Homo sapiens: one gene and its partners. The protein of the gene in region 2 interacts with the protein of the main gene of each other region in a pairwise test. Each region holds a gene or a part of one and is shown on either strand. Other genes may lie near its edges.

The links.
Region 1: the proteins of AGPAT4 (region 2) and FCRL3 interact in binary tests that used the Homo sapiens proteins (3 or more experiments, as listed by UniProt).
Region 3: the proteins of AGPAT4 (region 2) and GPR101 interact in binary tests that used the Homo sapiens proteins (3 or more experiments, as listed by UniProt).
Region 4: the proteins of AGPAT4 (region 2) and SLC7A8 interact in binary tests that used the Homo sapiens proteins (3 or more experiments, as listed by UniProt).

The regions. Positions count from the first base shown.
Region 1 is NC_000001.11:157,676,747-157,683,769, forward strand, and holds part of FCRL3 (Fc receptor-like protein 3 isoform 1 precursor), read right to left. Parts: intron 6,499-7,023; coding exon 6,471-6,498; intron 4,354-6,470; coding exon 4,235-4,353; intron 4,025-4,234; coding exon 3,956-4,024; intron 2,228-3,955; coding exon 2,196-2,227; intron 2,111-2,195; coding exon 1,964-2,110; 3' UTR 23-1,963; coding exon of another isoform or gene 1-22. UniProt on the Homo sapiens protein: Promotes TLR9-induced B-cell proliferation, activation and survival but inhibits antibody production and suppresses plasma cell differentiation. Enhances activation of NF-kappa-B and MAPK signaling pathways in TLR9 stimulated B-cells.
Region 2 is NC_000006.12:161,271,053-161,278,978, forward strand, and holds the start of AGPAT4 (1-acyl-sn-glycerol-3-phosphate acyltransferase delta), read right to left. Parts: upstream 3,010-7,926; 5' UTR 2,886-3,009; intron 1-2,885. UniProt on the Homo sapiens protein: Converts 1-acyl-sn-glycerol-3-phosphate (lysophosphatidic acid or LPA) into 1,2-diacyl-sn-glycerol-3-phosphate (phosphatidic acid or PA) by incorporating an acyl moiety at the sn-2 position of the glycerol backbone.
Region 3 is NC_000023.11:137,030,974-137,038,609, forward strand, and holds the start of GPR101 (probable G-protein coupled receptor 101), read right to left. Parts: upstream 3,023-7,636; 5' UTR 2,829-3,022; intron 794-2,828; 5' UTR 702-793; coding exon 1-701. UniProt on the Homo sapiens protein: Orphan receptor.
Region 4 is NC_000014.9:23,173,651-23,180,673, forward strand, and holds part of SLC7A8 (large neutral amino acids transporter small subunit 2), read right to left. Parts: intron 1-7,023. UniProt on the Homo sapiens protein: Associates with SLC3A2 to form a functional heterodimeric complex that translocates small and large neutral amino acids with broad specificity and a stoichiometry of 1:1.

The DNA of each region.
Region 1 (7,023 bases), on a different chromosome or scaffold from region 2:
TGTTCTTTCTTGGGTTCAGAATCTAGAAAATGGATAAACAATGATAAGAGATGACAGGTCCCTTAGAGAAAGTTCACTATAAGGCACAAAGGGGCTTGGCAAGGTAATTCCAAATCAGCAGCAGGGTTAGAAAGGAGGAGAGCCTCCATATACAGCCTGGTGGTTGGTACCCAAAACCGGTTTACATATTTTCACCATAGAGAAAAAAACAGCAGAATGTATCACATAGAAGACAGAGACATTTGCCTCCTCCCTCTTCAAGGGACCTTAAAATTTTAATGCCAATATGAACATGAACTGGCAGAGATCAGCATCTCAGTACGGGCAGGACATCATGCCCTGCACTCAAAGGCCAGGATAAGGGTAACAGAGGCCAGTGGGAGCAGTGTGGATTGATCATCACATTTTTTGAGGCCAGCAGCTGTGGCTTAGCTGGCTTTGCTGGTCGTAATGGAGGACAAAAGTGCCTTCTGGTGAAACTCAGCTTCCATAGTGATGGAACCTAAGGGTAGCAGAGTTTATGGTGACCCTGTAGTGTATCTCCAGAAATGGTGATTGTTTGAATGCATGTAAGACATTCCCTAGGGACTCCAAGAAATATTGATTAGAGGAAGATGTGGTGCTTTGAAAGGGACTTGGTGTTCCTACATGAACCAAGTGAAGGCCTAGAATTGGCAACATTCAGAGATTAATGTTAATATAATCTCAGTTGTCCCTAGGACTTGAGGTGTTCAGAGATATTTGGAAACATCAGGATTTCAGAATGGAGGTGAAGTCACTGAAAATTGTTGGTACATTTTCATTTTTGTCATATTAAAAATTCAACACACTGTGGAAAGAGTTTTTGATGGTGATAGCTAGGAAAACATTAAGCCAGATATTTTACACAAGTAAATACTAAACAGCAATAAAAACAAATGAACTATAGCAACACGCAACAATATGGATGAATCTTAGAAATACAACATGAAGAGAAAGTACTAAAAAAAATTATCTACAACAATATGGTCTTTAACTTATAGTTAAAACTAATATAAAAACATATTTAAGGAAAACATGTAGATACATTAATATGATAGAAATAGGAGAGCATGGGAATAATGAACATGAGATTTAGAATGGTTTTTTATCAGATGGAGTGAGGTAGAGGAAGAGAATGGGAGAAGCCACATAGATATAGTAGGTTATTGTCTCGGGGTTAATGGGTGCTTATAAGAATAAAACTGACTGACTAGAAATCTATCATGTATGGCAAATGATGAGACTATGTCATGAAGCAAAAATTACAATTAATGTGATTCTTCACACATAAGGTCTTTGCAGTGGGGATACAAGTCACATATTAAACTAGCAGAGTCTTTAATGAAATGCTGAAGTTATTTTTCATCATAACTAGGGTAATTTGGTTGGGAATGTCACCCTGTAAGTACAAAAATACACTTCAGATAGAGTCACCTTAAATTCTTGTTCTATAACTTCTTTTGGCTGTTCCCAATATGGTAGCAAGGATACAGCATATACACCAAAACATCAGCAATGCCACTACCAGCCACACAAAAAAGGGAAACAAAATATTTGGAGCAAATTGTTTATACAGAGAGCACATTAACAGCTTTCGATCACACTTGGATCAAATGGTCATGATTGTGCCCTTGTAACCCTGGCTAGACCATTTCTCTCTCCTCCTCTATTCGACAGCCCTAGGAGCTGAGGGCCCTCCTGCCTTGCCACGTGTCTCCACTGTGAAAATAACACAGTGCTTGCTCAGAGGCTGCCTGCTCTCTTCCTGGGGAACACACAGATCAGGCACAGGGGAGATTTGCAGACCTTTTGCTCAGCCTCACATACCCTGCAGCCCAGCCTCGTAGGAGGCAGAGTCTGGAGAGATGGATGATGTGTGGTTGGAGAGAACAGAAAAAAAAATGGTGCAGGCTGTTTCCTGTGGGCCACTCTGGGTAAGGGGCTAGTGGTCTGAGGCCAGTAATACACGTGGTACATTCTCATAGTTTTCTTCATCATCTTCTTCATGGGCCCTGCCTCTGCTGCTAGCCTCCCCTGCAGAGTCGTCTGGGTGTGTCTTCTTCAGTTCTGAATAGAGGACTGTAAGTTCCTGGTAGAAAAAAACACAAAAGGTAAGTACCTAAATACAGGAGAGGAAGGCCAGAGAGGAAAGAAAGCCAAGAAATGTGACTCACCTCATGCTCTTGATGCATCATTGGACAATTAGCTGTTGGGTAGGAGTAGCAAAGAAAAGTATTAAACTGTGGGCAATATATTCCAACTTACAACGTACGCACACTGCATTCCAAACCAATCTTCTTGATTTGCTTGATCTCTTGCTGTTTCCTCTGCTGGATTCTTCCAAACCCACATAGAAAAAGTACTCCAAGCCAATCTTCTTGATTTGCTTGATCTCTTGACTGTTTCCTCTGTTGGATTCTTCCAAACCCAAATAGAAAAAGTACTGCCCCAAGCACAAACACTAATAAAGACTTTCCTCTGCCCACCAAATGCCCAGAACTATTTTCATGACAATTTCCTTCTTGCTCCTCTGCTCATTATAACCCCAGAGGGGCACCCACCCCCAATCCACTGCAGACTTCTATGGCTGTATTGATCCTCTGGGAGAAGGAGGCAGATATGAGTCACTTCACTTGCACAGGGAAATTGGAAGAGACCAGAGAGGAGATTGGCATTCTAAGGCCACATGACAATTTCCCAGGAAGCCAAAGAGTTGCATTGGAGCATTGAGAAAATTTAGTGTGTGTGTATGTTTTCTACCTTTCCAAGGGGCTGTTTGTATCTCTTTTATTTATTTGTGCAGCCAATAAGCAATGCCTTCTATTAGGCATTAGGTAAGGTATAAGGAGATAGAAATGACAGAAACTCCTGGACAACATAGTGAAACCCTGTCTCTACTAAAAATACAAAATTTAGCTGGGCATGGTGATGCATGCCTGTAATCCCGGCTACTTAGGAAGCTAAGGCAGGAGAATCCCTTGAACCCAGGAGGCAGAAGTTGAAATGAGCCAAGATCGCACTGCTGCACTCCAGCCTGGGCGACAGAACGAGACCCCATCTCACAAAAAAAAAAAAAAAAAAAAAAAAAAAAAATGACAGAAACTCAGTTCATGTGATCAAGAATCCTATAATTTTGAAGGGGAGAAATGGACATAGAAATAAATGCAACAAGCATTATGGGCACCAAGACAGAAATACATATTGAACTATGTTGTTACCATAAAGAATAAATGTCTCCTCCCAGATTAGAATATGGAAAGGGTAGTTGGCATCAGTGTGAGTTTCACTGTTACCTGATCTATGTCTTGAAATATGAGTAGGGGTCACCAAGTAGACTAGAGGAAAGGACATTTCAAGACCAGTAAGAAACATGAGCACCAAGCATAAAGGTGCCAAGAGTTCAGTATGGCTAGAGGAAGAACATTAGGCAAAGCTTGCAGGAGGAGCCAGCGTGCAGAAGGCAAAGATCATGCTTTGGAATGGGTGTCATTGAGGGCAGTTAATCTAGGCACTGATGTGAACAATAGAGCACCTCAAAGGGATCATGCTGGAAATAGATTTTGGGAAGGCTGGAGGAGAACAGTAGTAGAAATAAAGAGACCAGTTAAAAGAATGACAATTGTCTCCACATTTGATTATTCACTCATTAATTCAAACAATATTTTAGGGGGCCTACAGTTTTCCAAGCATTGAGCTAAATGCTGTGAATACATTAGTGAAAAAGTCACAGTGTCTGTCCTCAAAGAATTTATGGGATCATGGTGGCAGTATGTAAAGGTAAGAAGAAATGGATAGATTCTACAGCTGACACTATGGGAGGCAAGTAATGCCTTGCGTGTTGGGCTTGTATTTGAAATAACTCTGATCAAAGACCCCTTGCCCGTTTCAATAAAACACTGCCACCTCACCTCTATTTGCCTGAAAGGCATCTTACCTGAGTTTTCTTTTGTATGCTGGATGCTCCAGATCTGGGAATAAATCGGGTTGCTATCTCCAGGATTTACTGTGAGAGAAGATATCATAGTTGGTTGCAGTCAAGAGCTCATATTCTAGACTCTACTTCCCAATCACCAAATTCATAACCAACTTCTATTCCCAGTGTAATGCTAGGAATGTCATTTTTAAATTTGTGACAGGGCCATGGGCTGTCGCTCAATCCCTCTTCCCTCCCTGGCTCCTCCCTAGAGCCTTCTGCCCCCTAGGGAGTCCTCACCATTGCTGTACATTGGCTCCAGCTCCATTGGGGCTAGTGGTTTAGAGTGAGTGGGCTCTTGAGGGTCTATCCTGGAAGGCCTGGACGAGGAAGGCTCCTGACACTCACTAGGACTGTGACTGTGACAGAGGGGGAGAGAATGGATTAAAAAGTATCTGTGGGTTACACAGAATTTCAGGGAAATCAATATTCTGGAAGTCCTCCAGTCCAGCATGATTCAAGTAAAAATATTGTGTCTGCTTCTGCTTGGGTCTTTTTTTTTAATTTTATTATTATTATACTTTAAGTTTTAGGGTACATCTGCACAATGTGCAGGTTTGTTACATATGTATATATGTGCCATGCTGGTGTCCTGCACCCATTAACTCGTCATTTAGAATTAGGTATATCTCCTAATGCTATCCCTCTCCCCTCCCCCCACCCCAAAACAGTCCCCAGAGTGTGATGTTCCCCTTCCTGTGTCCATGTGTTCTCATTATTCAATTCCCACCTATGAGTGAGAACATGCGGTGTTTGGTTTTTTGTTCTTGCGATAGTTTGCTGAGAATGATGGTTTCCAGTTTCATCCATGTTCCTACAAAGGACATGAACTCATCATTTTTTACAGCTGCATAGTATTCCATGGTGTATATGTGCCACATTTTCTTAATCCAGTCTATTGTTGTTGGACATTTGGGTTGGTTCCAAGTCTTTGCTATTGTGAATAGTGCCACAATAAACATATGTATGCATGTGTCTTTATAGCAGGATGATTTATAATCCTTTGGGTATATACTCAGTAATGGGATGGCTGGGTCAAATGGTATTTCTACTTCTAGATCCCTGAGGAATCGCCACACTGACTTCCACAATGGTTGAACTAGTTTACAGTCCCACCAACAGTGTAAAAGTGTTCCTATTTCTCCACATCTTCTCCAGCACCTGTTGTTTCCTGACTTTTTAATGATCGCCATTCTAACTGGTGTGAGATGGTATCTCATTGTGGTTTTGATTTGCATTTCTCTGATGGCCAGTGATGATGAGCATTTTTTCATGTGTTTTTTGGCTGCATAAATGTCTTCTTTTGAGAAGTGTCTGTTCATATCCTTTGCCCACTTTTTGATGGGGTTGTTTGTTTTTTTCTTGTAAATTTGTTTGAGTTCATCGTAGATTCCGGATATTAGCCGTTTGTCAGATGAGTAGGTTGCGAAAATTTTCTCCCATTTTGTGGGTTGCCTGTTCACTCTGATGGTAATTTCTTTTGCTGTGCAGAAGCTCTTTAGTTTAATTAGATCCCATTTGTCAATTTTGGCTTTTGTTGCCATTGCTTTTGGTGTTTTAGACACGAAGTCCTTGCCCATGCCTATGTCCTGAATGGTATTGCCTAGGTTTTCTTCTAGGGTTTTTATGGTTTTAGGTCTAACATTTAAGTCTTTAATCCATCTTGAATTAATTTTTGTATAAGGTGTAAGGAAGGGATCCAGTTTCAGCTTTCTACATATGGTTAGCCAGTTTTCCCAGCACCATTTATTAATAAAGTATCAGAAGACTTATGGCACAAGGTGAAGCCCAGGGAAGCATTACAAAACAGGACAGCCAAGGCAAGGCCAGAGGGCCAGCAGCCTCAGGGCCTCTTTGAAAGGCAAAAACTCATATTTGACTAATTTTAAATGTTATTTTTGAAGATGTAAATGATTAAACACTGATACACAAAGACCTCTGCATTCTTACAGAACTTAAACCTTGTCTTTTTTAAAAGGTCCCTTTCAGTTTTACACCTCATATTACAATAATCTACCTTTCCTGCAAGATGCCATGCGAGCTCTTCAAGTAAAGTGGATTTTTTTCCAATTTCATTTCCTTCTGCAGTTAATATTGTGAATTGAACATTGCCAGCATTCAATAATAATTTCCCAAATGAGTGGAAGAATGAGGAAGAAGGAAATGAATGCACTGTAGCCCTATGAAAGGTAATGCCATTAAGACATTAGTGGTCAAGTCTCTGCTGGAACACATTTAAGGAAGTAGATAAATTAACATAGATAGCCAATAACATGTATTGTGTTTAAGTAGAGACAGTGAATATCGTTCACAAATATAAGTGAAAGTGACATTCACTTATATCTACTTTTTTATTTTGTAAGAACGTAAAAATGCTACTAGGAAATCCATTGAAATTTAAAAAAAAACATAAACAAGTCTCGTGCATATAAATAAATCATGAAAATGTTGGCAGCACAAGAAGCAGAGACCTCACCTAGATGTTCCAGTGGCAGAAAGTCCTCCTGCAAAACAAACAAAGGAAGGTTGGTGGTAAGTGAGCTGTGTAAATAATGAACTCTCTGTTAGAACATTTTTTCCTAGAAATCAGATTCATTCTAGATCTAAGCTACGGAAAAACTCAAGGATTATCCAGCTCCACCCTCCTTACTCCCCCTATGTTATGTTATAGGTCAGGAAGGTGGGGTCTTGAAAGGCATTTGCCCAGAGTCACACTCATTCTGAATCATTTTTCAATCAGTAATAGGTGAATAGCAACTCTAAGTAGTTGTGACTGAGTAGGTCACAACCTGGGTCAGGTGCTCCCCTCAAACCCACTTCTTCATCCTGACTGCAGCCCTACAAAGTGGAGACAAGGAGACTGAGGCCTAGAGGGGCCAAGGGATGCTCAAAATGGATACAGAATTCCTTCACTAATATGAATCAATGGGACTACCATGATAAGCTCTACCTTCTCTTTCTCTAACTGTGACCCCTCACCCCTGCAAGTCTATTCCAGCAACACTGAACTGCAAATCATGTGGGTATGT
Region 2 (7,926 bases):
ATTCTGCCTTCTGTTCAGTCTTCTAACAGTCCTTCTTTTTCTGATTAAGAAAAACTTCTGTCCCCAATTTACATCTACTTATGCTTTCAACCAGCACAGAGTATACCTGCTCTACTTCTATACTAAAGACTGACTTCTCCCTTCTTGGAGTTAAGAACCCTGAACCATGATCCATTTCTTACCATCCACCTTTGCTATCTAAGACACCCTCTCCTTCTTCCCTTGAACCGTCTGCCTCCTCTCCTATAAAGCTTCAGCAGCAGGATGAAGACTCTCTAGTATTCTTCTCATACTAATTGCGTCTCCTTGACTGGCTGTTGCCTCCCCCTTCCTTCCAGCTGGGTGCTCTGCTCTTCTTTTCGCCACCCGTTTGGTGGATTTTAAGCTTGAGAGCACAGACTACAACTGCTGCCTTCTTCACCAACTTCACAGCAGAGCCTTGCAGACAGTAAAATCCCAATAAAATGACGGCTGACTCACCCTCTGGGTGTCACCTCTGTCAGCCTCTTCCATGGGACCCTACGTTTACTTTATACTCACAGCTCCACTTACCTTCCCTAGGCCAAAGCTGCTAACTGCTTTAACCTCTACTCAGCATCTGAATATCAGACAGTGTTTTGTTTGTTTATTGGGTTTGGGTTTTTTGTTGTTTTTGTTTTGGCTGTGCTTCTGAGGAAGTCTTGCTCTTTTTCCTTTCAGTTCTATTCCATTAGGCTTTTTGCTGTGAAATTTTGAATCTGGAAACTCAAGAGAACCGACATCGCAGACTTTGATTTACATGCTGTCAATCTGCTTTGGAAGGTCATGTGGCAAATCTGCCCTTGAGGACCATTTTCAGACAGGAAAAACAGTAATTTCAGCCTGGCTGCTTTTCAGAATTCTTTGCAAACATCAGATGCTCACAATCCAACCGTTTCTCTGTGTACTAACATGTGCTTTTCAAAATGAGTGTCATATTCTTTTTAGTAATACTTTTCTGTGTGTTATGCCCTTTAAATAGTTCTCGTCTTTAACTCCATGTGGCTCTGGTTTGTTTTGTGCCATGCTATTTTGCCCCATTTTCAGGTAACTTTTCTACCTGAATTACTTAGGACCTCTGGATTTATAGCAGATTTGATAAGACATAGATGATAGCATATTTAGATAAGGATCACAGCAAACAGAACCTCACTGAAACCACCCATTCTTCCTGCTTCCACATGGCAGGGTTGCTCAAGGTTTATAAGTAATGATTTTGGCTTTAGCAGCCGGAAGGTATGAGGGCTAAGTGACCTTCACACATGTTTATCTTAAATTATAGATAATTTTAAGAGTCATGAATGGGATTACTACTTATCTATTTTATAAAAGCTAATTATTTGGGATGCCCATCAGAAGAATGGTATCCCTTATCAAACGCTTCCTTAGACGTACTGAATAAAAGCATCAGTTTAGCCGGTACCTGTTAAGAGGCTATGTCTTTCTAAGAGATGTGTTATTTGATTCTAATTATAATTAACTTTGCTTATTACTAAGTAGATAATAATTTTCTCATTTCATATTTTTTCTGAATAACAGTTTTTCTCCCCATAGAGAATATTCAGAAGATGGAATCCTTTTAACGTAGAACTCAAGATGTGCCCTGTTCTCCCTGCCCGCCTCCCATTTCCCTAAACACACACACACACACACACACACACAAACACACACATTCTCCCTTCTCTCAAGATACTTTTTTTCCAACTGAGAGTCGTTGACTAATCACAGATGAGTTAATCCTTCCACAGTTTTGAAAAAGTCTAGCAACCCTCACCTTGAAGAGAGTGAATAGCGTGGCTAATCCATCTAAGAACAATGCACGAAAACGAAAAACGGAGAATCCTGCCCGGCAGTTAATTTGTTACTCATACTTGTTGAACTTAAGATTTGGAGCTAAATAAGTGCAGATGAGAGCAAAGACCCATCTTTTAAATATTTAAGCTTTTAGGCAAACCTGGGCAGGCAATATCACATTTATCAGTGCGAATTCTCCAATGCTCTCTAAAACTTTATTTCAATGATCTCACCTCCTGTAAGGAATTAATTCCCCCTTAGCTTGACCACAGGATCAATATCTTATCTTAAGAAGTGTTTAGGTTTTCTAAAAAAAGACCAGACACTGAAGACTTACATAAACATCAAAGCATTCTTTTTTTAATTCCTCGATATGGAGAAATTCATAGGCCGAAAATTAGGTAAATAGAGAGGTAATTACCAATGCCTGTTTCCTTGACAACTCCCCTCCCCCACCCCTCCTGTGATAGGGAAAAACCAAAATGAAAGTGAGGAGGGGTAGCCACAAGCCATGCTGGATTTTAGCAAACCAAAGCAAGAAGCAGAGCAGAAAGCTGCAAACTAGACACAAAATACAAATAAATCAATGTATATCGGGGCTGCATATTGTGTAGTATTTTTGTGGTTGCCATAGAAACGTCAGCGACGGAAGAACATGTTGCATGACACAAAAGAGAGCAATATGTAATAGGAACATTCCCCCCACCACCACCCCCCGCCCAGCTTCGTCTATAGCAGAGAAAATGCTTTAGCCCCGGGAGGGGGCTGGGTGGGTGGGTAAATGAAGCCAGGAACAGCAGCTTGAAATCACAGCCCAGAAAGGGACGCTCACCCGGCCCAGCACAAAGCGAGGGTCCTTTTGTACCAGCAGAGCCTCTCTTCGCCTCCCTCCAGGCGCCCCCTGCACCTTTCCCCCGCCCGCCTTGCACTCCCCCCCCGCCCCCGGAGCCTACCCCTTCCAGAGGTCCTAAGGAAATCCAGCCCAGGAGAGAAAAATATGCTGGGAAGAGGAATGCAAACATCAGCCACACCCAGCGGGGAAGGTGCCTGCGAACGGCACCAGGACCACATACCTCCTTCCTGGCAGCCTTTGGCACATGGACTTAGAAACCAGAAGCTGAGATGGAGCCGGCTGGGTTCAGAAATTGCCACTAGTTTATAAGAGCTGTAAGTCAGCCAACACTGGAAAGAAAAAGCGAGACTCCACCCATGGGGTGGACCCTTCAGGAAGAAAAAAAAAAAAAAAGTGGTCCTCAGCTGACGTCTCTCCCCACCCATGTCACTTCCTTTTAAAGCTACAAGTTAGCAGTTGCCGAGAGGGAAGAGCGAGCTGGTGTAATATGAGTCACTCCCTTCCCCTTCCAATTAGTGTAAGGCAGTGCTTCAGTTGGCTTCACGTTTGAAATCGCTTTTGAAATCTGGCTCGGGAAGCTGCCAGGATAAAAAAAAAATGAAAGCCCCCTGGAAGTGGCCTTGCTTTCTCTCCCCTTTCTCCCAAATCCTGTTGCATCCCTGCGCCCTAACGGCTCCTCTAACCTCAACCCAGACTCCGGCTCCGTCTGTGTTGCAACCTGGAAATTGTCCTCAGTTGGCTCATTTTTAATTCAGCAAGCGTAGGATCAATATGCCCACCCTCAAAACTCTCCCCTCACCTCTCCTCGGTCCGCTGTGCTGGAAGGAGATTGCGTTGCACTCAGAAGAGTCCAAATCATCTTAAACAAAATAAGCCTCAGCACTCAAGAGATTGAGATGTTATGAAGTGGGATGAAAGAAGCTTGGAGGTCGATTGATGTATTTTCTGTTTTCAAACCTTAGCACCATGGTTGATTACCACTGCACAGGCGTGCACACACGTACTGTCGCATGCTCACATGCACGTGGCATTTACACAGGTGTATCAGAGAGGGTCTGGGCAGACCTTTATAGTAAAAGTGTCTTCACAATTTTTAAAAAGGGTGGGCTGTTGAAAGTCCAGAAATGCCAGGATCTAGAAAATTATTTCAATTTCAAAATACTGAGGTGTATTCCTTTCAAATGTCCACTATTACAGCCATTGTCAAAATAATATTTAACTATTTACTTGACTCCTGGGTTAACCTTGTTCTTTAGATGTTTATAATCTATAAAGGAAAAATACATGTGCTCACAAATAGCCCAAGCACATTGCAGAATTACTAACAGCTATGCAAGTGTCAAAACCAGTGTGTCATGAAGACAGAATAGAAAGTGCTTTTTTGATTGCGATGGGGGAAGGCATTGATCATTCAGGAAACAGGGTTTGGAGTGGGTCCTATGGGAGGTGGCATTTTTCTTGTCTGTGATGAGAGACGGGGAGAGTGAAGCAGAATGTGGTGGAAGAGAAAGGATATGTGAGGCAAACAAAAAAAGGATCAGAACAGAAACCCATTTGTAGCAATAACTTGTTTTAATATCCATGTGAAAATAAATTTGACCACAGAGTAATGCTTATAAAAGATTTTTATAAAAAGTTCCTTGTAGTCATCATCTCTCGTAACTTTTCGAACTATGTTTTACGACCCATGTGCTTCTAGATTTGGTGGAAACTTGAGTTTTTCAAAGTGTTTTTCAAGTAGAGTTACACTGTTTTTCACGGTTGAATTCTGAATGGTAATTTATTTCAAAACCTACAAATTGCATAAATTCCTGATAATGTTATAAGTACAGTCAGTGATTTCAGTGGAAATGATAGGAAATTTAAAATTTGGACAATTGTAACTTTTATCCTGATCTCAGTACTTTAACATCCTCATTCCATTATTACATTACAATTATTATTATACTTATTATTGCTAACACTTTGCCTGTCTAGACAATGTTGCTCAGTCCCAGTTATCTCAGATATAGCTGAGAAATATGGGAGAAAAAGTTACTATTTCTAAAAATTTAACATAGAAATTCAAAATTCATGGATTAAATCCTATGCTTTTTTTTTTGAGACAGAGTCTTGCTCTGTTGCCCAGGCTGGAGTGCAATGATACGATCTCAGCTCACTGCAACCTCCACCTCCTGTGTTCAAGCAATTCTCGTGCTGCAGCCTCCCAAATAGCTGGGATTACAGACATACACTACCACACCCAGCTGATTTTTTGTGTTTTTGGTTGAGACGAAGTTTCACCATGTTGCCCAGGCTGGTCTCTAACTCCTGACCTCAGGTGATCCACCTCCACCTCCCAAAGTGCTGTGATTACAGGCAGGGAGTCACCACGCCCAGCCCTATGCACATTATTGAGTGCCATTTAGAGTCTATCCTTATGTGCCCTTATTTAGCTATTTCTATCTATACAAGGAATTGTGAATATTTCCAGGTCACAACGTAACAACTCAGTTCAATGTATGTTTATTGAGCATCCATGTTAGTTGCTGAAGATACAAAAACACAGATAAGACATGGAAATGGCCCCAAAGTGCTCAAAGTCTTAGAAGGGAAAGCGAAATGTAAACAGTTAAGACACAATGGAGGCAATGATTGACATTTGTACAAGATTCAGAGGTGGTTCGAGAATGGGAAAAGGAGAGGGAGGATACATCTACATAGTTTCTTAGCTAACAGTGGACTCTAAAAGGGGTGGAGGTGGACAGTATACTCATCCGTGAGATGGTAAGAAATAAATACTGGCAGTTGGAGAGAGGAGAAAAAAATTGAAAAGGAGACACAAATCATAAATTGGTAACCTAAAAAAGATATATAAGTGGTCCGTAAACAAAGAGGCAACCTTACATAAAAATACAAGTCACAAAGTAAGGATGTTATTTCTTTGCCTAGTCACTTGTCCAACACTCAAAAAGCTAGAACGTGCAGTGCAGAGAATGCAATGCCATGGGTTCTCTCTTCTGCTGGTGATGGCAAATTGATACAATCTCTGGAATTCAATTAAAGAAGATTTTTCATGAGCCTTTAAAATGTTCATACCCCTTAATCCAATAATTCGACTCAGAATAATTTATACCAAGGACATAAGCAGAGATAAATTCAAAGATTTGGGAACATGTATATTCATCAGAGCCATTTATAATAGTAAAGTCTGGAAACCATCTGAGTGTTTGAAGTAGCAGGTTAGCTATGGAAATGATGTAATCTTCATATGATGAAACACTCTACAAAAAATTAAAATTCTGTGTTTGAAAGACCTAGGGAAATTCATGGTATCTTAAGTGTAAAGGGAACTAAGCTTTATATAAATTATGGTCCCGTTTTCGTGATTCTATAAATATATATTACAGTGTGTGTAGTGGGTTGAATAAGTGTCCCCCAGTGTCCCCCACAAATTCATGTTCACCCAGAACCTCACAATATGAATTTGTTTAGAAACAGAGTCTTTGCAGATGTTAATCAGCTGAGACGAAGTCATTCTGGATTAGGATGGGCTATAGACCCAATACCTGGTGTCCTTATAAAAAGAGGAGAGGATGCAGAAAGACACACACATAGAATAAGGCCATGTGATGGCGGAGGTAGAGATGGGAATGATGTGTCTATGAATCAAAGATTGCTGGCAAACACCAGAAACCAGGAGAGACGCATGGAACAGACTCTCTGAGAGCCTCCAGAAGGACCCAACCCTGCTGATGCCTTAATTTTAGATTCCTGGCCTCGTGAACTGTAAGAGAATAAATTTCTGTTGTTTTAAGTCACACAGTTTGTGCTAATTTGTGATGGCAGCTCTGGGAAACTTAATGCAGTGTGATGAAGATCATGAAACTGTTAATAATCATTACTTCTGGAGAGTGAGATTGAGGATGATTTTTATTTGCTTCTTTATATGTGATTGCACTTTGGAGAACTTTCTACAATGGATGAACACGTGTGACTTTTACAGTAACAAGATTAGGACTAAAAACCAAATAACCTAGGTTTCTGAAACTGTTTCTGCAATTTAGAACAGACATAAACAATAATCAGTGATGCTTACGACACGGTGAGTCCTGAGGAGTAACATATTTTCAAAGCCCAGTGAGAGGTAGAATTCTGCATATCTCAGAAACTTCTTTAAACCTAAGTTTTGGTACTTAAAATGATAACTATCACTTATCTGAAATGTGAACTTACACACTATGTATTAACTGTTGTGCTAGATAGTGGAGTCACTGATGGCATTGTTACAAATTGCCCATTCTGTTAGCACAATGTTATTACACATTAACAGTATTTTTGCTTTATTTCCACTTGCCTCGTGTTGTGAACATTGATACAACATCCACACAAACCTATACACTGAGTTTAAAAATGTTCTCAAGTTATACAATATGAAGATATAGATTTGCAACTATGATGACCTCATTATGTGCTACATTGGAAATTGTGGCTGCTTAGAGGAGACAAAGGAAAATTGTAAATGCTAAAGTTAATTTGATATTTGGGGTCTATAATCTTATATTTAATAGTTATATATGTCAATAAAAACCCAATAAAGTTCTTAAAATGTTGTATGTTTTTATGACCAACAAACTCTTACGGCTCTCGTTATTATTACAATCATTTCAAGTACGATCAAAGAGGTGTAACATTAATATCATTGGGGAAAGTGCAGAGGAACTAAGAAAAATTTCCTCCTTTGCCAACAATGGTTATGACCTAAGTTATTCCCATAAGATGGATGTATTTACAGAACCTTCGTTTCTATTGATTAGCTCTCAATGAATCTTAACACTGAATTTTATGCTAAAAATTGTTCTTGATATTTACTTGGCTTTTTTCTCTTATTGCCATCTTCAGGTCAATTCAGCCCGCCTGAGATGGCCCCAGAAAGCCACCCACTACCCTGTCCTGAATTCAGGCAATGAGCAACTTGAAATCATACGATACAGAAGCAAATCTACCACAACAGAAGGAACTGAATTCAAATCAATTAACGCATAACTGATTGGCAACAAATTGAAAAAGATACCAGTTTCACAACCTGATTTTAAAAGACAAGGTAATACGATGCCAATACTGAAACCTAGCACTTGTATTCTTCATAGCCAAGTGACAATAGAGCACATTAGTTCAAGTGGTATGAAACTTGGGATGATTTTTACTGTCATTGCATGGTATGTGATTTTTTTTTTTTTTTTTTTTTTTTTTGAGACGGAGTCTCGCTGTCGCCCAGGCTG
Region 3 (7,636 bases), on a different chromosome or scaffold from region 2:
AAGCTGTGTCTCTTGACATTGTACAGCAGAGCATGCTGCCTCCGGGCTGCACAGAACACCACGGAGTAGCAGGCAATCATGACAATCAGTGGAATGACGATGAAGGACACCACGCTGAGAATAGTGTAGCTGGGGCTGGCCCCCCAGATCATGGAGCAGAGAGCATTGCGCTCATCAAAGGCAGCCTGGCCCCAGCCGTAGAGTGGAGGAGTGCTCTGCAGGATGGCCACAATCCAGGTGCCATAGAGGAGCAGGTAACCGCGGCGCTGGGTCATCTTGGACGGGTAGGAGAGAGGGTGGATGATGGACAAGTAGCGATCCACTGACACCACGACAATGGTGTTGACGCTGGCGAAGGCGAACAGGTGGGTGAGGCTAACCAGGGCCGTGCAGAAGTGGCTGTTGAGGGGCCAGAAGAGAGGCACAGAGGTGGCCACCACCCAGGGGGCCACGAGCGAAATCTGCAGCAGGTCGGTGACGAGGAGGTTAAAGATAAAACGGTTGGTCACCTGCAGCAGCTGCGGCTTGCGCTGCAACACTAGCGCCAGCACTATGTTGCCGACGAAAGAGGCGGCGAGGAAGATAACCAGCACGGTTGAGCGGATGATGCCGTGGGCCAGGCTGATGGGCATTTTGGAGAGGGGCATGCACGTGTGGCTGCTGTTACTCTCGCGCGTGCTGTTGGTGCAGGTGGACGTCATGGCAACAGCCAGAGGGCGTGAGACAGGTTGCAGGCTCAGTGCCGGCACCGGTGGGTGGCAAAGGGGTGCACAGACCGCACTCAGTGCCTATGCTGGTGACAAAAGAAACACGCAGGCAGAGTTAGTCACCCGTCAAGGGGAGAAGCCTCCGCGCCCAGCAAGGACGCTGCAGGACCCCCTACCCCGGGTTTCCGCACGGCTCCATCCCCAGTGCGGGCAGCTTCTATGGCTCCTTTCCGGACTCTCCAGATCTGTCTGCCTGTCTCTCTCCAGGGCTCTGATTTCCTCTCATCTGTTTCTCCTGCTGGCGCGTGCGTGCGTGCGCTTTCTCTGCTTGTCTCTCACACTGTCTCTGGCTCCGGGGAGTTTTGGTCGCTAGCGCTAGCGCATGCGCGTGCGCTCTCTGTTTCTGTCTGTTTACGACCGTCAGTTTCTGTCTCTTCTCCAGTGTCTCTCGCTAGCGCACTTTTTTTCTTTATCTCTCGGGTTGTGTGTCTGTATGTGTCTCACCGTTTCCTGATTCTTTCTCATCCTTGTCTCTCACTTATGTCTGTCTCTGTTTCTCCGTCTCTCGATAGCACGTGCACGCTGTCTCTTTCCTGTTACTCTCATTTATCTCTTCCACTCTGTTTGTCACTCAGTCTCTCTGTGTGTGTCTCTTTCGCTAGCGCACTTTCTCTGCAGGGCTTGCGCTCTCGCTCCCTATCTTTCTCACAGTCTTGCCCGTCTCTCCCTCAGTCTCTTTCTGATCCATTCTGTCTCTCTGTGTCTCTGCCTGTCACTGTGTCGCTCGCTAGTTCATGTGTGTCTCCGTCTTTCCCTAGTGCTCTCTTGTCTCTCCATTTCTCTCTCAGTCTATTTCCCCAGCAGTTCATCTTTGTGGGTCCCTAGCGCACCTGTTCAATGTCGTTCGCTGTGTCTCTGCCCGTCTCCGTGTCTCTCCAACTCTCTTGTTTCTGCGTCTCCCTCGGGTTCTCTGGGTGTCTCCTTCTGTCTCTCACTGGCACGTGTGCGCTTGCTCTGTCTTTCTCGGACCCTCTTGTCTCTGTGTCTCTCCGTGTGGTTTCTGTCTCTCCCTGCCTAAGTTCTCTCTGCATTACTCTGCCTCTCTCTCCATTGATCTCTAACACTCTACTGCTTGTCTCACCTGTCTCTCAAGCTATCTCTTTAGTGTGTGCACTCTCTCGTTGGTTTCTCTGTCCTTCACTTTCCTGTCACCCCAGGACTCTGGCTAAACACTTGCTTTGTATCTTTGAGTGTGTGCGCATCTCTATTTCTCTACATCTTTTTCCCATGGCCCCTCACCTTGGTTTTTCTCTGGCTGGATCTCTGTCTCTTTGGATCTCTGTCTCCCTGTGGACTTTATTTTGCCGTGGAAACCACCTGCCGCCCCGGCCACCGCGGGCTTTGGTTAAAAAACCCTTAGTTTATCAGCAGTGCAATGGAGACTGGAAAATGCAGAGAGGATGCCTATTGAGCTCCCCTACCCTCACCCTCCACAGCCCCATCCCCATTCCCAATTTGGCATCCTCTTTGCTTTCTCCGGATCTGCTTGGTGTCGGTGACAGCCGAGGGGAGTGGGAAAGGAGCTGGGGAGAAAGGCAAAAGAGGCAGGGGTGCAGGGTGGTGGAGAGAGTCAGAAAGGCAGGGCGAGAGAGACTGAGAGGCAGAGAGACAAAAAGGAAATGAGAGACAGCGAAAGAATGAGATACATACAGAGAGACAGAGAGAATGTGAGCAACAGAGAGGGAGAAAGAAAGAAAAAAGAAGAAATGGGAGCGTGAGAGTGAGAGAGAATGAGAGAGCAAGACAGACTGGGAGAGACGCAGACAGAAAAAGCAAAAAATAATAAGAAAAGAGAACAAGCAGAGGAAGAGGGAAAGGATGAGGAAAAAACGAGAGAATGGAGAGGAAGGGGGAAAAGAACGCACGAGAAAAAGTGAGAGAGAAAACGCGAGGGCGGGAGGATGGCTAGGGAAAGGCGAGAAGGGGCCGCACCGCGGGCCACCGCGCCTGGTAGCTCAGCAGCCGTCGGGACGCTTCAGAGGGGGCGTCGTGGGCTCCCAGGCTCGGGGCCCTGCCGGGTGCTGGGGGCCACGGAGCCCGGAGTAGGGCCGGGCTGCTTACCTGTTGCTGCTGCAGACGTGGCGTCGCGGGCGCCGCGTGCAGGTCCTTCGGGGCTCCTCGCGCTCGTCCCGGCCGCCTCTCGGGGCTCGGGCGGCTGCGAGCTGGCACGGGGCAGCGGGCGCTGCGGGCGCGGCAGGAGCGGGGCACAGCGTCTGTGCCCGCACGTCCGGCCAGCGCGCCGCGCTGCAAGCTCTGAGAGGCAGCGGGGGCGCGCGGCGTCTTAAGGCAGCGCGGTGCCCTCACCTTGCGGTGCCGCCCTCCCCTCGGCCCCCGCCTGCGCCCGTGACGCACGAGGCCGCCGCAGCCCAGGGAGCGGGGCTGGCAGGTGGGGGGCCGTGCACCAGACCCCACTCAGATTTTCTCACTCCGGGTTCCCACCCCTGGGGCCCCGAGTCCACCGAGAGCTCACAGACTGGGGATTGTCACCGGGGCTGATTTTCGTGCAAACCCCGTGCCTTCCTAGCCCCCTGATTTCGGGCCAGCTCCCAGGCACAGACCCTGCACTATCCTTCCGATTCTTCCAAATAGGAGGGCCCGGGACTCCCCTCGACTTCTGAAAACCCTCCAAAGTATGAATAGCCCCTGAGCCCGAGAAAGGAATCGTGACTTTAATGTCAACGATTTTCCACGAATTTCTCTAGCTCCCAGGAAGAGCTAAGCGGCAGTGCTTTCCCTGTGGGATTTGGAAGCATTTCATTTAAGACAAGCCACATAATTACCCACTATATTCTTTGATTGAAGTATGTCTGTCTGTAAGTCAGTCAGCATCTCTCCCTCTCTCCCTCTTTCTCCCCCTCTCTCTGCCAGGTACTGTGTTAAACTGTTTACACAGAGAATACCGCTGAATCTTTACCCCAGCCTTGTGAGATAAGTACCGCTATTATCTTCATTTTATAGAGACAGAAGCAGAAGCCAAGAAAGATTACCCTACTTGCCTAAGTTCAAGTAAATATTGCACACGTTCTATTAGCCAAGACATTCTGGTCTCTCCTAAACACATACTGGGTATTTGTTGTATATCAGGACTGAGGAGGCCCCCTCTTCCCTGCCCCCAGAAGGTAGGGAAGGTGACCCAGACCAGGGATCATTTGCATTAGATTTCCAAGGGATTAGGAGGTGTTTTCTAGGCAGGGCACAAGGGGAAATGTGTTCTGTAAAAAGAAGATGCATGGGGTAAAACTAGGGCTGCAAGAGAGACTTGAGTTCCAAAGGCTGGGAAAACAGGCTGCAGCATGGTGAGTGCCAGGAGGTTAGCTGGTTAAACTGGGTAGAGACAAATCCTGAGGGGTCTTGAATGCCAGTCTGCAGACTTCGGACTTTACCCTGAGATCCCTGGAGGTCGTCGGAGAGTCGTTTTATTATGAAAGACTTCAAGCATACACAAACGTAATGAGAATAATAAAATAATCCTCCATGTTCCTATTACCCAGCCTTCACAAGGGTAAATAATTTGCCATTCTTGTTCATTGGTGGGTTTTAGGTAGGGCGATATTCTAAAATCAGGGCTGGTGTTGGATGGAGAAAGCTGAAGGGAGGCTGTGGCAGGAGACAAAGAGGGTCTTGACAGGTCCAACAGAGCGGGGCAAGCAGAGACCTACAGAGAGGCAAATTGACAGGGAATAAGGGCAAGGAGGTGTTGGGGAGGGTCTAGAATGAGCACAGGGTTTGGAGTTGGTTGATGGGCTGGATGGAGATACCTCCTCCCCTTCTCGTCACCTGCCTCTGAGACAGGGAGATGAGACAGGTGTATAATCGGGCCTCAAGAATGCTCTTTGGATCTGGAGTCCTGCATTTGCTCTTAGATCATTTGTCCTTTTTCTGCTATGCCTGATTTTATCTCCCCAAGGTTGAATGGTAAAAACCTGGTCATTTTTCCTAGAGACAGTTTCCGTGATAATCACTCACAGTTATTATTAATTCCTAGCTTCGTGCTGGCCATGGTACAGAATCCTGGGTGGCATGCACTGTCAAGCGGTAGTTTGTTCAGACTCAATGATTTTACAATCACTTGGGAGGCAGTGAAGCTGCTAGAAGTGGCCAGAGACAAAGGCCAGTCTTTCTTGACCTTTCCTATTTTTATTGTGGTTGTGACCATGCCCGAGACTGCTAGGTTCCAGCAGGGGACCCTCTAGACACATGTTAAAGATTGGTGCCTCAGAGGGATGGGCTCATGGAGTCTGCAGCTGCACTTTTGGGCACGAAGGGGGATAATAGGGAGTGGAAGGGGTTGGGTGGGATGAGGCCTCTGCAACTGAGACAAGCCTGCCAGCCGGAGATAGGAAAAAAGCCAGAGAAGTGCTAGGAAATAAATACCAGCTATTTTTCTGTATAGGGAGATGTTTGAGGGTGGTTAATCCTCCGGTGTCTTCTCTTTCCCTCCAGATGTGAGCAGAGTAGGTATTCTTGGATTTCAAAGACATCCAAATATCAGTTCCCCAACTGGAAGTATGTGGTGGAGCTTTGGGGAATGTGGATTTGGCTTCCAGCCCTGCAGGCTCTGATTCTGATAGCCTTGAAGGAGCCCTTCAACTGACAAGCCTCATTACATTCTGGGGAGAGTCTTTGGGATGAAACAGGGAGACTTTGGGATGATGGCTTAAGAAGTCACCTAGTCCTTTTCCCTACCTTCATAATTCAGTAGCAGCAGAGGCACGATCAAGCTGATGATATTAATGGACCAGGACTAGAGGGCAAGAAGCTACCAACAAGAAAGGGCCCAAGGTCCCATTGACAATCACACGTTGCAACACTGGTCAGTAGTGTGCCGGCCTCAGGCTTGTTCACCTTGTCAGACTAATTGCCCCAATTGCTGTACCAATAGCTAGATGAGGGAAGTTGGGAAACCCAAGACTCAGCCAAGTATTAGTTCTAGTCATTCATTCTAGTAATAAACGGTGCAAGAGTCCTTGAGTGCCTACTTTATGCTTGCTGTCTTGTATTAAATCCTTGAGGAAGCTCTGCAAGTTAGGAAACAATACCGTATTTTCTGAAAGCATGACACAGTACATACCACTAGGAAATGGAAAAATGCTGAACATTTAACCATCATACCATGGCTAACAAGATACATCTTGATTTCAAAGATGCTAGAATGTGAAAAAAAATGTGCTTTAGAATCAATGTAAGACAGTATCATCCCTGTCTTTACAGAGGGGTTAAGTAACTTATCCAAGGTCACACAGCAAATAAGTTTTGGAGCTGAGAGTTAAAGCCTACTCTAACTCCAAAGCAGGGGCATTTCCTAGGCTACATCAAGGAAGAGTGCAGAGACAAGACAGAAGGGCTCCCAGACCCAGCTCAGATAAAATTTTTGAATCTAGGTGAAAGGGGACTAGGAGTTGCTAGAATTGTGAAAAGACAAGTGCATTTGCAGTGGTAATGGTTTCTTTTTGTAGGACAGACACATGGTTCCCATAGGTGGTAAAAAGACTAAATCAGTCAATCTAAGTTCTAAGTCACACTCCTTTTTGCTTAGCGAGTTCATAATAAGTCGATGGGGAAAAATATATGGTTTTGTTCTGGAGTGCCTACCCATGGGGGTGTTTTACATTTTTCAGTGTTATGTGTTACTCTGGAATTCACTTCAGGCCAACTCCTAGAAGCTGTGTTTGCAAAACTGAAACAAAATCAAGTACCACCTGGGTGTGAGCTAATATTGCACATTCTGTGGGTTTGGGCAGTACAGAAGTTCTGGATTTCAAAGCTATGTCTATCCAAATAAACTAATTTGGAAGAGAAAATCAGCAGAAAATAACTTGATGGATTAAAACTAGAGAGCAGAAGACTTGAATTCTAGCCCTAATTCTGTGGCTAACTTGCATGTAACTTTGGGAAGATCCCCTTCCTCTCTCTGATCTCACTTCTGTAATCCACCAAATGAATGTGTGTGTGTGTGGTGGGGCTAGGGGTTGGATGTTAGGTAGTCTCTAAGGATCCTGTCAGTCTATGACCTTTGATGCCATCTACTTTCTATCTGAGTGTTATTTTTAAAAACCCAAAACTAATCTGACCCAAATATTAAAAAAATTGAAAGCTGGACTCTGCTTCTGGCCATGAAAGAATAAGAGACAGGATTTACCCTTTTATCTTAAACAACTAAAAAAGTGGACAACATACATAAAATAATAGTTGTTAGACATTGGAAAATAGACAGTACAGCACAGTGATCTTCAAGAAAAGAGAAACAAATGAGGTGAGCCCTACAATTGCCTCCGTTTACTACCTAGAGAGAATTTCCAGTCCTCTGTGCAGGAAGAAAGAATCCAGGCTGAGCCTGGAAGTCCGCCTAAATTTAGGAGACAAAGTTCAGAATTCAAGGAGGTGAGGGTGGGCAGAATTTGCAGAGCAAGGTGCCAGAGGGGCACTGCACAGAAAGAGTACTCCGGAACTCTGTAAAAGATTTCCCTCAAGGCTGAATACTGATCAGCACATGCATGTAAAGTATGCAAGGTTGGGATAGAACCACTCAAAAGGAGTAGGAGGAGTGATTTGTAGAGCTCACACAAGACTGGGAATAGCTCAGTTTCCCAGTAGTCAGAGAGAAGAGACTTCATAAGATACAGTGCATCAGACTAAGTGCTCAGAGGAGGATTGCCTCAGTAGTGGAGCCAAACTAGCCTTAGTGTCAAGTATGCTCTGATCCCACATATGAAAGCTTAAAAACAGGCCCCGGTGTGTGATGTTCCCCTTCCTGTTGTGGGGTGGGGGGAGGGGGGAGGGATAGCATTAGGAGATATACCTAATGTTAAATGACGAGTTAATGGGTGCAGCACACCAACATGGCACATGTATACATATGTAACAAACCT
Region 4 (7,023 bases), on a different chromosome or scaffold from region 2:
TTTACTTTTTTTTTTGAGACAAGGTCTCACTCTGTCACCCAGGCTGGAGTGCACAATCACAGCTCACTGCAACCTCTGCCTCCCAAGCTCAAGCAATCCTCCCACCTCAGCCTCCCTAGTGCTGGGACCACAGGCGTGTGCCACCCCACCCGACTAATTTTTAAATATTTTGTAGAGGCAGGGTCCCACTGTGTTGCCCAGGCTGGTCTTGAACTCCTGGATCCAAGTGATCCTCCCACCTCAGCCTCCCAAAGTGCTGGAATTACAAGTATGTGCCACCCCACCTGGCCAGCTTTGTTTAAATACTCCACAAGAAACTTCCATTGCACAGCTAAGTAAACTGATAATTAGCTTGCTCAAGATTACAAAGATTGTAAATAGGGAAGCGGTTTGCAAACTTAAGACTATCTCTAAAGCCCATCTTTTTCTAATCAGTGGTTCCTCCCAGTCTATGGCATGCCGATGCAAATCATGGAAAAATTCACTCTAAACTTTCTGCTTTCAATATCAGGGTCCAAATACCACCTTAAGTCAACCTGACCTGTCTTTATCAGCTGCTTACTAAACACTCTCTGCAGAACTGTACTCTTAAAAAGCACTGAAGTATTTGTGCATTTCCTAAATGTACAAACAAGCACCTTTAAAACGTGGAGACAGATGAGAAAAGTAATAATTCTGCAGCAGTGGTACTCTTTCTGAGTAATCTGCTTTTGCAATGTGCAGTTCAGTGTGAGGTTGCCTGGTCCACCTTCAGACATTGTGAAACCTTCTCCCCAGAAGTGATGTCACTGCTAATGCTGAGGATATTTAAAGCAGGGAGCAAACCAATGGGAAGACATGTGACTGTGACAAAGATGAGGGATGAGATGTGATCAATAGAGCTTTTCAGCTCAAACTTCACTCATTCTATAAATAAAACAGCTTAAAATAGACTTGAGGGATTATTTTGCCTCCTAGAAATAAAATTCACCAGTGCTCAGGACAAGGCCTAGAATATAATGTGCTCGGTGAGTGTTTGTTAAAATGTGGAATAATTCTGAATCCTATGTCCAGCTGCTCCCACTCCTGCAGCAGAGAGGAGCCTGCAGTTTGCCATTTCCAGATCTCCAGGGAGAAGGGATCTGGGGGCCTGCTCTGTAGACGCGTTCTGGAAGGGGAAAGAAGGCATGGTCCTCCATGCTCTGTATGCTCAGCGGGGAGTTAAACATTGGAAAGAAACAGTTTCTAGCCCCCTGGGTTCCTGAATGGCTCTTATTTTCTGTAGTTTGGGATATACTCCTGGGATCATTTGCATGTGCCTGCTTTTCTAGATCCATCTCCCTCTCCTACAATAACAACAAAACAACAACAGACATTCCTGAGGCATTTCTTTGAAGGCAGCTGTGCTGCTGGATTACCCATCAAAAAGACAGAAAACCTCAGTAGCCTGGCAACTTGAGAAGCCCCAGCCAAGATGCCCCACACCTCTACCCCACTTCAATAAGCTGATTTAACTCAGAAAAGTGTATATATGGTGCTGGCCGCTCTTGAGAAGGTTATTTGGTTTGGGTACAGTGGTGTTTTGTGTTTGTTTGTTTGTTTGTTGTTGTTTTGAGACAGAGTCCTGGAGTAAGCAGTAGTGCAACTTGGCTCACTGCAACCTCCATCTCCTGGGTTCAAGCAATTCTCGTGCCTCAGCCTTCGAAGGAGCTGGGACTACAGGAATCTGCCACCACATCTGGCTAATTTTTGTATTTTTAGTAGAGATGGGGTTTCACCATGTTGGCCAGGCTGGTCCCGAGCTCCTGACCTCAAGTGATCCACCCACCTTGGCCTCCCAAAGTGCTGGGATTACAGGCGTGAGCCACCGCACCCGGCCGGTACAGGGTGTTTTTAACTGTGACTGTTTAAAATGGCTGTCTGGTGTGTCTCTTGGACATAGTTTCTTACCTGCCGGGTTCCTACTTTCTTTCCTCCACTCTAAGCATCTCCTGCTAGTCAGTCATTCTGCGTAACTCTGCTCTTTGAGGGAATGTATTATCGCCCTGACAGTAGCAGATTCAACCAAATTACTCCTTTAGCTCTCTGGTTCCTGGAGTCAGGAAGTGTCCAACAGGATCCCTGGTCCCGGCCACCTTGCACTCCAGACTGAGGAGCATTTTAGTTAAGCCCAGTTGCTTCAGATTTTAGTGACCTTGGTGGGAATCTAGGCTCTACCATCACCTAGCAATGTATGCTCAGTAAATGGCAGCTACTTATTATTATTACATTGCTGGGCATATAGCCTTTCCCTACTCACCAAGATGTGTTTGTTTTGAAATACCTCCTAGCTGGCTTCTGTCCCAGAATTTTATTTGAGAACAATGAGGGTTTTAATCACATTTTCATCCTGAATGAACCAAATCGTAATCCCTCTATGTTTTGTGTGAGTGTATTTGTATTTTTTAATTGAAGTACAAACTCAAGAAGCAGTTTTCACACTCCCTCCCTCTGGTCAACATCCAGTAGACATTTTTGGGATTAGAAGCTAATACATCATATTAGAGACTAAAATGCAAAATCTTCTAAAGTGGTATAGACCACATGGGTGTGAGATCTTTTATACTTGAAATTTTTCCAAGTCAGTCCAGAGCCATTTCAGTACAGTTATACCCATAGCCACACCTCTCTGTTGACAGAAACCCTTAAAATTTTTTCCCCCAATTTTTTCAGTATCAGACATCCGTGGTCTTTCTGGACTCCAGTCTCAGGGTTGTCTTCCTCCATGGCCAACTGCCCCACCATGCAATATATATCAGCCTCCTCCTGTCTTGGTTACCAATTAGAAATGAGAAATGGCTAAGTGTTCTGGCTATGGAGTCATCTCAGTTATCAGTGGTGTGACCCTAGGAAAATTAGCTACCAGCTCTGTGACTCAATTTCCCCATTTTTAACGTACAGGTAATTATAATAAGTACTGTCTTAAGATTGTTGGGAAGATTGAATAAAATAATATATGTAAAGAGCTTATAGCTCAGGAATTGGCATTTAGGCTGGGCGCGGTGGCTCACACCTATAATCCCAGCACTTTGGGAGGCCAAGGCGGGCAGATCACTTGAGGTCAGGAGTTCGAGACTAGCCTGGCCAACATGGTGAAACCCTGTCTTCACTAAAAATACAAAAATTAGCTGAGCGTGGTAGCTCGCGCCTGTAATCCCTGCTACTCAGGAGGCTGAGGCAGAAGAATCACTTGAATCTGGGAGGGAGAGGTTGCAGTGAGCCGAGATTGCCCCACTCCACTCCAGCCTGGGCGACAGAGCAAGACTCTGTCTCAAAAAAAAAAAAAAAAAAAAAATTGGGATTTAGTAAGAGCTCAATAAATACTATTTTAAAAAATCATGTTAGTTGGGAGATAGTGGTCTAGTAGCTAGATCAGCATCCAGTATTGTTCTGTAGCAAATATACCAAGATCCCCCAAAAACATAAATTGTGCTGAAAACAAAATGGTCTGACATTATATACTTTTTAATTTTATTATTACAGCTCTCTGGCCAGCTTTTTCACCTTTGTTAAGTTTAGCTGAAAGCTGCCTCCTTACATATTTTAAATTCCACTTAAAGATTTCTCCATATGTAGTGAAACGTAACCTAACTGGATGTGTAAATAGACTGTAACCTACTTTTGTACCATTCACTGAGTTTCAGCCAATCAAAGGCAGCCAACTGTCCAACCCTTGTTCAAATAAGGAAAATGTAGAGCTGTAACTAATCAAGCTGTTTCTGTACCTTGCTTCTATTTCCTGTATGTCACTTGCCTTTTTCTGCCCATAAATCTTCTTCGACCATGAGGCTGCCCCAGAAACTCTGAATCAGTTCTGGTTCAAGAGGCTGCCTGATTCACAAATTGTTCTTTGCTCAATTAAACACTGTTAAATTTAATTTGTTTAAGGTTTTCCTTTTAATGCCTTCAAGACACAGATTCTGGTTACATACCTAGATACGTGACTGGTATAAAGTACCTAAATGGCCAGGAACTCTGTGGGTACCTCTAACACGGCTGGGAAGAACACTGGTCCATAAAGGAAAGGTGTGCATGTGCAGGAATGAATGCGAGCATGGTCTGTGCTGGCCAGATGCCCCTCAGGCTCACCCAAGTCTTCCTGCAATTGCACCGGGAATATTACTTTCTTCCACTCCCAGCTGACAGCCCAGCTCCCCTGCTATACTGGGAGTCTTCCTCACTGGGAACACAAAATTAATTGCTATACAATAAGTATTCATTCATCTATAAAAATGAATAAGGACCTCTGTCCAGATTCTAAAAGAAAATACTCCTTTAGGAGATAAAAATAGAAATAGTGAAGAATAATGCTTACAAGCTTGATTCAGGATGCAGACAAGCTCTGGGTTTGAATCCTAGCTCCAATATTTTTTAGTTGTGTGACCTTCAGCAAAGTTGCTTACCCCTTTGAGCCTTTATTTCCTATCTGGAGGAAGAGGTAATAAAGTGTCTACCAAATGAGTTACTGTGAATGACAAATAAGTTCAGGTATGTTAGGTAATTGGATGAGTACCTGGCATATACTAAGTGTTTAATAAACACAGCTATTAACAGTAGCTCTGGTATCATTAATAAATGAACTTTGCTGTCCTCCGCACCCTCTTTCGACTTTGGGGGGAACTCCACGTTCATGGTGAAATCTAAATTAATATGCTGCCAACAGGTTTCCTTAGCCAAGTACATGGAGAACAAAAGCCTGATTAGGTTAGGACAAGGATGATGTTAAAAGATTAAAATGGGCCAACCTAATTGTCCAGGTTGATAAAACTACTCCTAGCTTAAAGATTTTCAAGCCAGGTTCCCAGCAGCCCTGCAGATAAATGTTTCCTATTCATATTTTTGTCCTAGAGTCGGTTAAATTCAACAATCATTTGAGTAAGTATTCCTTAGCAGGCATTCTGTTAAACACTAAAGATTCAGAAACATATAAGACACTTGCTTTTTTTTTTTAAGAGGCAAGGTTTTGTTGGGCACGGTGGCCCACACGTGTAACCCCAACACTTCGGGAGGCTGAGGCAGGAGGATTGCTTGAGCCCAGGAGTTCAAGATAGCCTGGGCAACATAGGGAGACCCTGTCTCTAAAAAAAATTAAAAATAATTTTAAAAATTATTAAGCTACTTGGGAGGCTGAGGTGGGAGAATTGCTTTCGAGGCTGCAGTGAGCTATGATTGCACCACTGTACTCCAGCCTGGTTAACAGAGTGAGATCTTGTCTCCAAAAAAAAAAAAAAAAAAAAAAAATGAAGATGAGGTCTTGCTCTGTTGCCTAGGCTGGCTTGAAACTCCTGGGCTAAAATGATCAAGGAGATGGGACTACAGGTATCCACCACCACACCTGGCTCAATTTTTCTCATAGTTCAATTTTTTTTTACGGACACAATCTTTGATCTAGGAAATAACAGTTTAGTCATTATGCTTTTACCTAAGAAAACTCCCAGAATCAGCTCCCCTACTTCATCTTCTCCTCAAAGCCTTCAAGATGCTTCTTAATCTAGTTCTTAGTAAGAACCTCTCTCTCCTGGCTTCCCACCATTCACATAACTTTGCCCTACTTTAGCTCTTTCACAACTAAACCATGTCATTAATTTTGAATGTTCTCTGTTTAGTACATATGCATCTCATCCTCCCAATCAGGATATAAGGAACTCTCTGGCATAAGTCTTCTATTAATTCATTGTATATTTCCATAACACCTACCATTCTGTTATCCTTGCTTTCAATCATCCATGTTGATTGTGAATGAAATTTTACAAAACATGTAGTTTAAATTATCCCTCTTAGTCAGTAAGGTATGAGAGAGATAGATTTAGGGCAAATGTAACTTTGCCACAGTCCCTGAAAAAAAAAAAAAGATCTGGGGGCCGGGCACGGTGGCTCATGCCTGTAATCCCAGCACTGATAGGCCGAGGTGGGAGGATTTCTTGAGCCCAGGAGTTGGAGACCAGCCTGGGCGATACAGTGAGACCCTGTTTCTACAAGAAAAAATTTAAAATAGCTAGGTGTCGTGGTGTATGCCTGTGGTCACAGCTACTGAGGAAGCTGAGGTGGAAGGATCGCTTGAGCCCAGGAGTTTGAGGCTGCAGCGATGCAGTGAGCACGCCACAGCACTCCAGCCTAGGCAACACAGCGAGACACTGTCTCAGAAAAAAAAGAAAGAAAGAAAGAAAGATGGGACAAATTCTACTTTTCCATAACATGTCTCCTGATTCACTTAGAAAACTTCCTTTCTCTTTTTGACTTTTTTTTTTTTTTTTTGAGATGGAGTCTCACTCTGTCACCCAGACTGGAGTGCAGTGGCGCAACCTTGGCTCACTGCAACCTCTGCCTTCTGGGTTCAAGCAATTCTCCTGCCTCAGCCTCACGAGTAGCTGGGACTACAGGCATGCGCCACGACGCCCGGCTAATTTTTTGTATTTTTTAGTAGAGACGAGGTTTCACCGTGTTAGCCAGGATGGTCTTGATCTCCTGACCTCGTGATCCGCCCGCCTTGGCCTCCCAAAGTGCTGGGATTACAGGTGTGAGCCACCGCACCCGGCCCTTTTTTTGCCTTTTAGTTCTCTTTTTTTCTGCAGTGTTGACATTGGACACCAGATCCCTGAAATCTACACAGAAAATGCCATTTCTATTTTTGCATTTGGTCTTGAAAACACTTGAATCACGATCATCCACTGAGAAACTTCTCCAGAAGAGGAAAGGGCAGTTCCTCAGCACATCTGTGACTCAACAGCAACTCGGGAGGGGAAGCAGAATGGATTTTGTCCCCTGTTATCATCTTAAAGGGGAAATTTGTTTCTAGCTTAAGTTGGGGTAGAATAGTGCCTATTAACTCTACAAGGATTCTCATGTTTTGCAAAAATATCCCAATTTCTCTGAAATCACATATTTGGAATCTCTTTTCATCACAGAACACCAGAATTGCCATTCTAGTTACTGTAATGCCACCATGGGGAGCTTTGAGATTATTCTCCCATTGAAGTACCATCCATAAGGTTGTGGACAAATCAG